Regions from separate parts of the Homo sapiens genome. Here region 2 is reported to be linked to region 1. The links are microRNA targets in miRTarBase. Many come from high-throughput screens and were not tested one by one. Region 1 holds a microRNA gene; the other region holds the end of a gene's coding sequence.

Region 1 (3,210 bases):
GGGAAACAGAGTCGTGGAGGCTTTGAATCTCTCAGAAAAAAGGAAAGACAGGAAAGCTCAGAAACAAAGAGACAGAAGGATGAAAAAGAAGAAGAGGGAGGTGGTGGGGACGGCGTCATCCCGCTGGAGGAGCTCAGCTCTGGGATGATGTGGTGGCTGGTGGTCAACCGTCCGCCGCAGGGGGTGGCCATGAAGATGGAGTCGCCGGTGCGGGGTGGGTGCTGCGGGCGCTGCTGTTCCGATGGTGTCTTTGATGTTGGGCTGATGAGGTCTGGTTCCTCTAGCTTCACCTAGAGATAGCGACACGTGGGTGGGATGGGGGCAGGGTGCTCGGGGGCCTGGAGGCTTCCGGAAGGAGCGCTGGTGCTCACCTTCCAGAGCCGATTCCTGAGTCAGGTAGTGCAGTGGTTGTAAAGTGCAGCATATTCATTTCCAAGCTAGAGGGTTTTGTGTCCGGATTCAAAGGCCCAGGCTTGAGCTGGGTAGCACCATTTCTGTGGATGGGGAAGGAGTGAGGTCCCACTCAGCTCCTCTCGCGTGCCCCCCACCCCAAGTGTGGCAGGAAGCCCCTCACCTTTCATGTTGTGGGTTCTGGGAGCCCAGAGGGCAGCCATAGTGTGCCGACTCCGTGGAGGAAGTAAAGAAACAGACCCGCTTCTTGCCGCAGCCCCACCAGCCTAAGGTGTTCTGTAGAAGACAGAGGTCGGGGCAGTGAGATGGTGGCCCGGCGGGGCGGTCTGGGCAGGGCCGCGTCCTGACGCAGGGAGGGCAGACACGCTCACCAGGAAGGCCGGACGCGCCTCCTCTGTCCTCGCCGTCACACCGGACCATGTCATGTCCTGCTTGTCACGTCCACCGGACCTGGCGTCTTGGCCTTCGGCAGCTGGTGGGCACGTCCACCCCAGCTGGAGACCTGGCTGTGGGGAGAACGAGAGAGTCGTGTGGGGAGAACGTGTTGGTTGTGTGGGGAGGGGCGGGTGGGGGCTGAGGGTGGCAGAGGGGGAAAAACTCACCCTCGTCTCCAGCCCGAACGCTGAGGCACCGATCCCGGCTCCGTCGCCGCCCGCGAGGCCCGCCTTGGCCACGGGCTCTGGAGGCCAGTGCCTCCCGCTCGCCGCCCGCTGCGCTCCTCACCCCTGCCTGCACCATCCTCCCTCCTGAGAGCTCATTCACTCCGCCCCGCCCGCCTCGCCTAGTCTGGTCTCGCCCCATGCCCTTGACTCCCCTGGATGCTGTACTGTCTGCCAAGCCAGCCCCAGGGGCTGAGCGGTGAGGGCATACAGCGTCACCAAGTCCACTGTGGGCCCTCTCCGCACCAGACCCTGGGCCGCAGTGCCTCGTGGGACCGGCGCCCGCAGGCCGAGCCCCTGCAGCCTCCTTGCTGCGCAATGTCCCGGGGCCCCCCTCCCGTGGCCGCTTCGCCCTCCTGGTGACGTCCTGCTGCAACTCCCCGAGCACTGCCTGTCTTCCCGCTCTCCAGCCCTCGAGGCTCCGGCATAGGCCTGAGAAAGCCGTGCCGGAGCTGCCCCTGTGCCTGCTACTAAATGAATTGCGGTGGGTGAGGTGGCAGCTGGGGACCCCTCTGTCCTGTGTCCCCTGCCATGTCCCTGTCTGACCCAGGCCTGGGGTACCACCCCACGTGCTGGACCCTACGCTGGCCACCCCTGTGCTCCCTCCCTGCCCTCTTGCTCTTTCTGCCTGGAACGGGCCCATAACCCCCCAGCCTTGCGCAGTCTCGGCTCCCCCCGAGAAGATGTCACCTTTGCTAACTCTCCTGCCCCCATCCTGCCCCTCTGCTGGGAGGGTGTCTGCTTCTCCCCGCCAGCCCTCGATCCCCTAAACCTCCTTCTTTCAGAAGGCTGGGGAAGCGAGGCCTGGGGAGGGAAGGGACTCACCTGCCCGGCAGATGGGGTCCTCACCTGCCCGCTGCTGCCAGCTACACCTCCGTTGCCCAGGCCCTGGGATCAAACCCTGCCCACCAGCTCCCCTCGTCCAACCAGCTGCCACGTCCTGTAACCAAAAGTGACCGGGATGAATGCCTGGCTCCCCCTTCTTTCCAGCCCTAGCTCAGGCCCATCGTCCCCAGCTGATGTCGCCCTGTCTGCACGATGCCTGGGCGCCTACTCCACACTCCTCACTGGCCTCAGGCCCCACCAGCCCTGCCTCGAGCTAGCCCCTCCACCCGTCATCACTCCTGCCAGACTCCAGATGTCCAAGGTGCTCCTTGGCTCCCACAAGCTCTCCTCCAGCACCCCATCTTCCCCTGGTTGCCCCTCGGTTCCCCACTTCCCCAGTTTCCCCCGTTACCCCCCACCCATCCCACCCCCTCCCTCACCCTGCTCCTCGGTCCTAGCCCGGGCTTTTTCTAACTGGGGTGGCCCCGCCCAGAATTCCCGCCCCTGCCCTGCCGGCCAATCAGAGCAGGGCCCTCCCGAGGGCCCCCGCAGGGCCCACCTCCGCCCTGGACAGTTCCAGCACACGTCTCTCTCACCCAGCACCCATCCTGGAATTCTCCAAAGACGGCCTCCCCGCACCCCTCCTTTGGCATCCGGAGACAGGGCTGAGCATTGCCCCATCACCTCCCTCAGGGTCCAGGACTTCTCCCTCCCAGACCACTGTCTCCCCTCAGGGGACACCATGCCTGCTGCTCCCTGCCTGCCAGCGCCCTGCACATACTTTGCACATGGCTGGGGGCCAGCTGCGGGTCCCTGGGGACTCGGATGGCACAGAGGGCCCCTTCCTGCCACCATCACGGCTCAGACCTCACGTTCCTGGAGAGTAGGGGTGGGGTGCTGAGGGGCAGAGGGAAGTGCCGCAAACCCCCTGGTGGGCGCGGTGCCAGCCCCCCAGGCCGATTCCCATCCAGTTGACCGAGCTTGTGCTGGTCACCGCGGTTTCCGCAGGACAGAGTCCCCACAGCCGCTGGGCACCCCGGTCCCATTCGCGGCCACTTTCCTGTCTGAAGACCGCATGTTGCCGGGCTGTGCTTACGGCTCGCGGGCGCACTCTACTGACAAGCGGTGGGCGGCCTCACAGACTCTCCCAGGCCCGCGTGGGGCACCACGGTTGGGAGTGGAGTGGAGACTGGCGAGTTTCGACTCCCCCAGCCACCCCGCTGTGGGTCCGTCGGTCACCACCTTGGCCTTTGGTGAGGGTTGTTGGGGCCCTGCAGTCCCTGGGGTTCACCTCAAGTCTCGAGTGTCAAAGCCG
Region 2 (3,106 bases), not on the chromosome of region 1:
ATTTACAAACCAGTAACTCAATTTCTGTTTTGTAAAATTTTCATTTCATTAAATAATAAGTCCTAATCAAGTATTATTCTTTCCCACAGTATGTGAGTGCTGTCCTCAATACTGTCAACACTTCTGGCTTCTACCAGGCAAGGCTGCATGTAGATTTGCATCTGAAAAAACAACAAACTAAAATCTAACCCTAGGTAGTAGTAAACTGAATATAAACTTTCTCTTATGAATTTATTCTGTCTTCTTTGGTACATCAATAATAATATACACCTTTACAGTATTTCCCAGATTGGGGGATACACTTTAGCAAGTATCTGCGATTATTTGTTTATGTAAGATGTCCCTTCCCTTCTGTGAATCATCATTCTTCACCCCAAGTATCTTGAGATTGGATTCTGTATAAGCAGAATACAACAGTTAGGCATTCAGGTATCATTAAATTCCTCCGCTTCAAGGATGAAAATTTCTTTGGGTATCTAATAGAGTACAAAGCAGAAGGTGTTTCAGAAATATTTGCAGTATTGAATCCGCATATTCCTCCAAGATAGCCCTAATCTAACTGGCAGGGTCCCACTCTTCCCAGATTAATGCCCACTCACATAACAAACCTGATGAGGTAGTGAAGAAAACTAACTTTGTGAGTAAGCAACTGGCAGAGTTTTTCACCACTGTGACTCTATAGCTACATGTAACTAAGTAGTATCACTGACACATAATCTTAAATTGAAGTTTTAAGATCATTATTCTCCATGTTATACATGGGTATCAAAAGCATTCCCCTCTTGACCACTCCAGAATTCTGTTTAAAATTTTTCAATGACAACTTATCCATTTCCCCAAAGCCTCAGTGAGCACATGATGCCAACAATTCATTTCATGACTTCATAGCATGGGCCAAGTTTCTTGCTTAAAAGACTTCCATCCTGTCTTGGGAAACAACCATTTCCAAATATCCACATATCCTTGCAAGTTTCTGCCTACTCCTCTACCACCCATTTCTGAAGCCATCTGATTTAGTAAGCTGTATGCAAAAGATACACAATGGCTAATGCAATCAAACAAGGAATGTATTAAAAGCACACCCAATAGCTCAAAATAAAAGACAAGTGAACAAAGTTAAGAAAATGACAGTAACAAAAGCTGTTCTGGGAACCTCTATTGAAATAGCTACTTATTACATCAACATGCTACCACAGAACAAAAGCTCATGTTGCTTTTCTGAACTTGAAAAACCCATTAACAATGTACAGTTCTGAGCCTCAGCTGACCATAGTGCTCATGCCAAGTCCTGAGCAGGGCATCTTGAATGGTGGTTCCCTCATGACTACATACACCGTTAGGGAATGTTTCGTTAAGAGGAAATCAAGATGTTCTAACCTGTGAAGGTAGAATAGATTCCAGGCTACACAAACACATGAAGTGTGCCTTATATTGATTACTAAAGAGGTTGCTGCCAAGACTGCTTCCAAAGGGCAGAAGATAGCCCTAAAAAATGTTTGCAGTGTGGAAATGCATTTTTAGTAAGTCATATTCTAGTAACAAGTTGCATTTGGTAAGACACAAAGAAACAATGTTGGTATGCAGAGTAGAAATCTCTGGAAGATGATATTGTCATATCAGAGATATTGTCAGTATCAGAGATACTGAAATCTCTGGAAGATGATTTTTGTCTCACATATGGCATTCGCAAGTAAAATGCCAAACTGCAAAATTCATATTATGTAGTACACATAGGAAGATATCTAAATATCCCTGTAGGCTCTGGGATGTTATTTCTTATTCTTAACCTCCTTACTAGATTCACTTGTACAATGAAATAATCTGTATCTTATTATTTATAATTGAGAATTTTCTCAAACCTTTTCCTGAAATTTTGGAACACCTGGAATAAAATTTCTTAAAATGATTCCTAAAAGAAATAATTCTTCAAAATTAATATTAAGATATAATAACAGGTTGGTTTTTTTTTTTTTTTTTTTTTTTTTTTTTAGAATGAAGCTTCTAAGGTGAGGTTAACAGTCCAGCTGTGGTTTATTTGGTACATTCATAAGATGTTCACTCCTATATATATTTTTTCCCTAGGGGTTTCTCATTTCTAGATTTACACTTTCCCTTATAGCATGGTCCCTCCAAGGTATATGCTTCCGATACATAAAATGTTTGTAATTTTGTTAATTCTGCCATTCATTAGCTCAATAATTTCTCTCATTAAAATTCTGTAAACTATGAATTTCAAAGAAGTCTATTCTATATTCATCTGGTTCATGAAGTTTCCTCTTTGTGAATCTTATTTTAGTAAAATGACTTTACAACGTTTAACATGGTTCCTCACCTGTATGAACTTTTTAAAAAAAGGTATGACTTGCTGCTAAAAATTTTCAGAGTGGTTACTAAATTCAGTTTTCCTGTGTATTGTCTACTATCTTTTTGCATGTAAAGAACAGCTTTCTGTGGATGCCTTTCCATATGCTGTGCATTCATAAAGTTTCTATTCAGTATGAGTTTTCTGGAAGATGACAAGATGATTCCACTTACAGAGTTTCTCTTTATATATGATTGTTTCTATCTCTTGTGAATCCACTTTTCAGAGTTTCGTAAAATTATCAATGTTTGTCATCTACATGAGTTCTCTGATGCATAATGAGCTGTGACTTCCAACAAAAGGCTTTCCCACATTCAGTGCACTTACAAGGCTTCTCTCCTGTATGTGTTCTCTGATGTGCACTGAGAATTGATTTTTGAGAGAAGGTTTTCCCACATTCATTGCACCCATAGGGTTTCTCTCCTGAATGAGTTCTTTGATGTACAATGAGTTGAGAATTCCTAATGAAGGCTTTTCCACACTCACTGCATTCATATGGTTTCTCTCTTGTGTGCATTCTCTGGTGTACAAGAAGGCGTAATTTCCCACTGAAGGATTTCTCACATTGACTGCATTTATAAGGGTTGACCCCTGCATGAGTTCGCTCATGTACAATGAGTAGTGATTTCCAAATGAAGGCTTTCCCACATTCATTACATTCATATGGTTTTTCACCTGAATGAGTTCTCATGTGTATAATTAGGTATGACTTGCTGCTAAAAGCTTTCCCACATTCACTGCACC

The links. The annotated mature microRNA hsa-miR-675-3p reads CUGUAUGCCCUCACCGCUCA and lies in region 1 at 1,264-1,283, opposite strand. An mRNA with a match to its seed (bases 2 to 7 or 8) in the 3' UTR can be bound and repressed. Matches are read on the target gene's strand: a 7mer-m8 pairs with bases 2 to 8, a 7mer-A1 pairs with bases 2 to 7 and ends in A, and an 8mer does both.
Region 2: miRTarBase lists ZNF268 as a target of hsa-miR-675-3p. Seed matches in the 3' UTR shown: 7mer-m8 at 1,023-1,029.

What each region holds. Positions count from the first base shown.
Region 1 is chr11:1,995,505-1,998,714 of GRCh38, forward strand. MIR675 (microRNA 675) reads right to left here and starts at 1,327; the gene lies at 1,255-1,327. H19 (H19 imprinted maternally expressed transcript) reads right to left here and starts at 2,338. Exons shown (of 5, transcript NR_002196.3): 1 at 1,014-2,338; 2 at 783-917; 3 at 575-687; 4 at 372-494; 5 at 1-290. It also overlaps a transcript of MRPL23 not described here. RefSeq lists enhancers at 1,850-2,697, 2,698-3,210.
Region 2 is chr12:133,204,028-133,207,133 of GRCh38, reverse strand. ZNF268 (zinc finger protein 268) reads right to left here. Exons shown (of 6, transcript NM_003415.3): 6 at 1-3,106. The coding sequence ends at 2,604. Among named protein-coding and RNA genes, the nearest start is that of ZNF268, 24 kb to the right of the region's middle.